Linked DNA regions of Homo sapiens: region 1 is linked to region 2. The links come from fine-mapping of genetic effects on gene expression. A gene starts in region 2. The other region holds a variant in brackets. All regions are shown on one strand. Distances are from middle to middle.

The links. PIP is the estimated chance that this variant, and not a neighbour inherited with it, causes the effect.
Region 1: its variant is the best candidate, but not a certain one, in a credible set for the expression of NDNF in tibial artery (GTEx, PIP 0.56).

The regions. Positions count from the first base shown.
Region 1 is chr4:120,074,467-120,077,378 of GRCh38, forward strand. All of the region lies in intron 1 of MAD2L1-DT (MAD2L1 divergent transcript), which reads left to right. Among named protein-coding and RNA genes, the nearest start is that of MAD2L1-DT, 9.0 kb to the left of the region's middle. The variant C/T (reference allele first, on the strand shown) is at 1,216.
Region 2 is chr4:121,070,853-121,073,764 of GRCh38, forward strand. NDNF (neuron derived neurotrophic factor) reads right to left here and starts at 1,683. Exons shown (of 4, transcript NM_024574.4): 1 at 1,141-1,683. NDNF-AS1 (NDNF antisense RNA 1) reads left to right here and starts at 510. Exons shown (of 3, transcript NR_187407.1): 1 at 510-728; 2 at 2,898-2,912.

The sequences.
Region 1 (2,912 bases), 1.0 Mb before region 2:
CCAAAAGTACTCATAACATAGAAGATGAACATCTTCGGGACATTGTAGGTGTAGCATTCCACACTTACAATGCTTGCCTGCCTGACTTAGGAAAAAGATCAGGAGTGTGGGAAAGGCAGGTCATAGTTCTACTTATGCCCCAAGTACACTTGCCTGTACCTCCTGGGAGACTGGAACTTGTAGGGAGATTATTTGAAGCAATCTGGAAATGTGAATGCACCTTTCTCTTCTCTTTCTCAAAGGTCTTGTTTTCCAAAATAGTGTGTACTATCAGTAACAGAAAAAGTTATGAATATACTTATGTAAATGTTGGTTATTTATCTCTAAATTATAAACATTTTCCACAGTGTTAGGTATAGCATATGTGTTTAAATCATACCAGTTGTTCGAAATTAAGAAAGATGAGAAATACTTTTAAAATAATTCTGTTTATATTATTAGAAAATAAATTATTTTTACTTTCACTAAATATATTAATAACCATATTAAGATTTTTGCAGTGAATATGTTTCATTGCTTTTAAAAATCATGGTTTAATTATTTTTGAAAGAGTGGTTTACAAGTCTAATAATTCAGCTTATTTTAATAGTTTTTTTGTTTGTTTTGGGGGGTTTGTGTTTTTTGGCCAGCAGAGCTAAAAGAGATACACCACAAAGATATGAAGGTCCAAATGGAAGAAAGTACATTGTTGACTTCTTATTCTTTTTATTTACCTGTATTAGCAATTATGCAAAGTTTTTGCTGAAAAGGGATTATTAAATTTCAATTTAATGGTACCAATTAGGTGTTCTTACAAGCTGGTTAAAAAGTGACATATGATATTTTAATAATTTTAATGAATGTGTTCAAAAACAATGGTTTAAGCAGTTTTTTAACCCTTTTTTTTTTAAAAAAATATCAAAACAATACCTTCCTATTAGTTTGGGAACTAATTAAATGCATTGTTTGACCTTTTAGTTAGTTTTGGAACTAATTTGTAATTTAGAAAAATTATAGTTTAGAGAACTCTGTTTCCAAACTTTTCAATTGTACAGATGAGACTTTTTTAAAAAATAGTTTATCCAGGCCAGGTGCGGTGGCTCATGCCTGTAATCCCAGCACTTTGGGAGGCTGAGGAGGGCGGATGACGAGGTCAGGAGATTGAGACCATCCTGGCTAACACAGTGAAACCCTGTAAAAAAAAAAAAAATACAAAAAATTAGCCGGGTGTGGTGG[C/T]GGGCACCTGTAGTCCCAGCTACTCAGGAGGCTGAGGCAGGAGAATGGCATGAACCCGGGAGCTGGAGCTTGCAGTGAGCTGAGATCGTGCCACTGCATTCCAACCTGGGTGACAGAGCGAGACTCCATCTCAAAAAAAAAAAAAAGTTTATTCAAACGTGCTCCTTCCATAACATGAGTGTCTTTTGAAAAACGGAATGGAAGAATGTTAATTTTTCTGAAGTTCTTGTTAGCACAGTACTGCAAAGAGAAAGAGCCAGTAAATCTGGCACAGCTGACTTGCATTTCCTCAGGGTACCAATCATGGCCTATGACTCCCTTTTTTTTCTAAATTTTTAAAACTGACAAATAATAATTGTACATATTTACAGGGTGCATAGTGATGTTGTGGTCTATACAATGTATAGTGATCAGATCAGGGTAATCAGCCTATCTATCATCTTAAACATTTATAATTTCTTTGTGTTTCAAACATTCAATATCCCCATTCTAGCTATTTTAAACTATTATTAACTTGTAGGATGTAGTCATCCTACAAGTGCTGTAGAACACTAGAACTTACTCTTATCTAGCTGTAATTTTGTTTCCTTTAACAAATCTCTCTGTCCTCTCTTTCCGCCTACCCTTCCCAGCCTCTAGTATTCTCTGTTGTACTTTTTACTTCTGTGGGATCAACTTTTTTAACTTCCACATATGAGTAAGAACGTGACCTTCTGACATGGAGACTGTGTGAGTGTGCAATGTCAGTCCATTTTTTGAAATCCATTTTTTTAGTAAAGCTTATTTTCCTAGGTTAAAACATAAATTAAATAGAAGTTGTAACATTCCTTCCTATACTCCCAAAAGGATTGTTTTTTGCATATATTCCACTTTGGAAGCCACTGATTTTGAGGATGTTTGCAGAAACCTTATTGATTAGGGGATGAGGCACCTGAGTTGGGAATAGTAGTGTTCCGTGCTTGTCCTCTCTTCTAGGTAAATATGGAATAGACCTAGTTAGGATGGCTGACCTGCATGCCTATGTGGAAATTTGAAGTATCATTCTTTTTTTTTTTTTTTTTTTTCTGAGACAGAGTCTTGCTCTTTCACCCAGGCTGGAGCGTGGTGGCACCATCTCAGCTCACTGCAATCATCGCCTCTCAGGTTCAAGTGATCCTTATTCCTCAGCCTCCTGTGTAGCTGGGATTACATGCATGCACCATCACACCCAGCTAATTGTTGTATTTTTTAGTGGAGACAAGGTTTCGATGGTCTTGCACTCCTGGCCTCAAGTGATTCACCCACCTTGACCTCCCAAAGTGCTGGGATTACAAGTGTGAGCCGCCATGCCCGGCGTGAGCTATCATTCTTTATAATGGACTTTGCAGAACAATCCTGTAAGGAAAATACATTCTTATTGGGAAGGAGTGCTCCAGACTCTTGAACCCCATCTATTTACCACTGCCCAAAGCACAGAATAAAAGCCATCTTAGGGGTTTCAACAAATCCTGTCATAAAAGTCCACTTAGATCACATAAAAAAAAAAAACTTTATTACTGGTTGCATAATGAGGGAGTGTCATGGTCTTGTCTAAAAGAAGCAGGAATCTCCAAGCAATCTACCAACAGCAGAGATCACATGCAGATATGTCAAAAAAAGATGTTAGCCTAGCATGTTCCAGAGAAACTTCTTAGAAGCAGACTATCTGGACAATTTAA
Region 2 (2,912 bases):
CCGAAGGGGGCCAGGAGGGGAACCGCAACTTGGCCGGAGGGACAGCTCAGAGACAGCGTAGAGGTGCCCGCGGCAAACTCCGAGGAGCTGATGCGGGGCGGGTCCGGGGAACTGCCGGGAGCTCTCACGCCTGGGCCTGGGATAGGGTGCGGGCAGAAAGGTGAACCGAGAGCGCACAATGCAACGAAACCGCACTCCAAATTCAGCAGTTTGCAAAGTGCCTCCAAGAAAACAGCTGGGACCTGCAATCACTCGTTCGGACTCCTAGGTTATCGGGGCCGCGGCGACTCCGCTCAGTTAGAAAGGTAGCGCGGGTGAGAGCGAACCCCAACTCACGCACAGACAGGACGAGGGCACGAAGCCGAGTCTCCTGGCTGGGGCCGTAGGGGGCGTCACCTCGGTGGCCGCTCTGCTCTCCGGAAGAAAGTATGAGCCGGTCCCAGGCCACCTCGCTCAGCCCAAGGAAGTTTCTATAACGATGCTCGCCTACCACGCAGAGGACAAATGAGGAGCCAGAGCGGTTGGGGGTCGGGCCAACCGAACTCCCGGCCCCGGCTGCGCAGCTCCCAGACGCCCACCAAGAACTCGTGCGCTGCCTGGACCTCTAGCTTTTCGCCCTACACGCAGACGCCCTCTGCAAAACCCCAGTCCCGCAGACTTTCCCTAGCGGCGGGCGGAGGGCATGAACCTGGAAAGGGAGGCAACAGCCCTCTTGGCAGGCGGGCAAAGTAAGTGTCCAGGCTAAGTCCGGGATAAAGGCTCCGCGGCTCCCCAGACCCCACTGCACCCCGAGCTCCCGGGTCCCAGGTCTTCCCCGCCCTTGCGCTGTCTGTCCACCTCCTCACATCTCTCCGGGCCGCCCAGCTTCGAAAGCAGCTAAATTAAAAACAAACAAACAAACAAACAACAACAACAATAAAAAAAAAAAAACGAGGGAAACCTGCTCCTGCCCCTCATGCCCTCAGCTCCTACGGATAGGGCGCCCTTGAGAAGCTTCTTGGGCCTTGAAGATTTGGGGGCGCGTGCCTCGAGCCCCCATCTCGGATGACCCTTCGGGCGTGAACGCTCCTTGTGCTAGGTCTCAGGGTGGCGGGCTAAGGCGTCGGGTCTCTGGGGCATTGCTTTCCTCTCCCCACTTACCTTAAAAAGATCTGTTTTTCGTAGGGAAAATAGAAAAAAATCCCTCCCCGTGGTGTGGTGTGCGAAATAGTCCACGTCCCCGGACCCTGCCAAGATGCTAAGCACCAATATCCAGGAACGAGAAGCCTGGAGGGCGGGGACGGAGGCAGATAAAAGAGAAAAATTCAATCCGCTGAAGTGTCCCAACTTTGCGGTCGGCACAGCAAACTTCAAAGGCGGGCGAGGGCGGGCGGCGCGCGGTCGCCGAAGTTGCTGCGAAGTGGAGTAGGGAGCCGCGCGGGGCTGGGGAATCCCGGGGCAGCGCCGAGAAGCGGCGGGAGGTCCTTTTAAACTGCAGGGAGCGTGCGGGGGCTGGGCGGCGGGAGGATGCCGCAGCGACCCGCGGGGCTGGCGCGGGCTTCGCCGGCCGCCGCTAGTCGCACAGGCGCCTGGCTGGAGCGCCGCGCGGGGTGCTGGGAGAGCCGGGCGCACGGGGCGGCAGCGGCCGTGGCGGGTGCGCTGCTCAGTTAGCTCCACTCTCTCGCGGCTGGAAGTGGGGAGTGTGTGTTCGCTCCCGAGTGTCACTGCTGAAGCCCGGAGTCTCTTCCCCTCCCAGCCCTAACCCCTCCCGCCTCACCGCTGCCCGCCCGCCCCCTCCCTCCTCTGCCCGTTGCCTCCCCCTCCGTCCCTCCTTCTCTCCCTCCCGCTGCGCGCCAGCGCGCACGCACACACACACACACACACACACACTCATACACATACACACACTCACACACAGACACCCTCTCCCTCCTTTTCTCTCTCCCTGTAGCCCTCCCTCCCTCTCTTTCTCTCACACACACACCACCCTGCTCAGCGACCCAGCGCTCCCCAAACAGGACCCTCGCGGGCGGCATCGCGAGGGACACGCTGCTGTCCTAACCTTAGCGCCACTCGGGGAGAATGAAGGAGGCCCACCGAGCCCCCGACAAAGCTGCAAAACCCAGGAGACGCGCACGCGGGACCATCACACTGTCAAGCAGACCGGGGTGCACAATAGAGGGAAACTCTGGGGTTGATCTGGGGGCAGGGAGGGGGACGTGTTAAATCCAGAAGGTTGGTGGTTGGAGGCGGAAAGCAGAGTGTGCAAACTGTGCATTCATGTCCCACTTTTCACCCGAACGCCTGCCTATCACAGCCTTCACTCAGGGAGCGCTTCCCCCTCGGCGCAGACCGAGCCTCCTCCGATTTGAAACTCAGCAGCTGTTTTAACAATTGAAAAAGCGGCCCTACAGGACCAGTGAAACGGAGCAGAGTGTGTGAAGCCATTAAGGCTGACTAGGTAATTATGATAAAAAGTTACCTAATTAGCAACCTGGCCTGGGCTTAGGAAAACCAAGAAAAAAAAAGTACCGAATGATTTGGTGATCTCATTTTTGCAACTGAGAACCTGATTTCCAGCAAACCTGGTTTTATATAAGTTCTAATAATATATAATTATTTATTAAGATATAGTGTCAGTATTGAAAACACTAGTTCTGTTATTGCCACAATGAAATTAAGGTAGGTAGGATGAAAATCAGCCTTATCCCGGTCATATTAAGAACTATGATCTTTTTTGCTAAACAGTTGGTCACAGAGGGTGGACCAATGCAGCTCCTAAAGTTTTGTGGTTCCTAGATGAAAACACTGCAGGAAATGGATTTATAAAACCGTTTACACGACATAAAATAGTTTTGTAAAATTTTTAAACACTGAAAAGGACATTTCAGATCACTGTGCAAGCATATTTTTTGCAGATGAGACAATGAGGT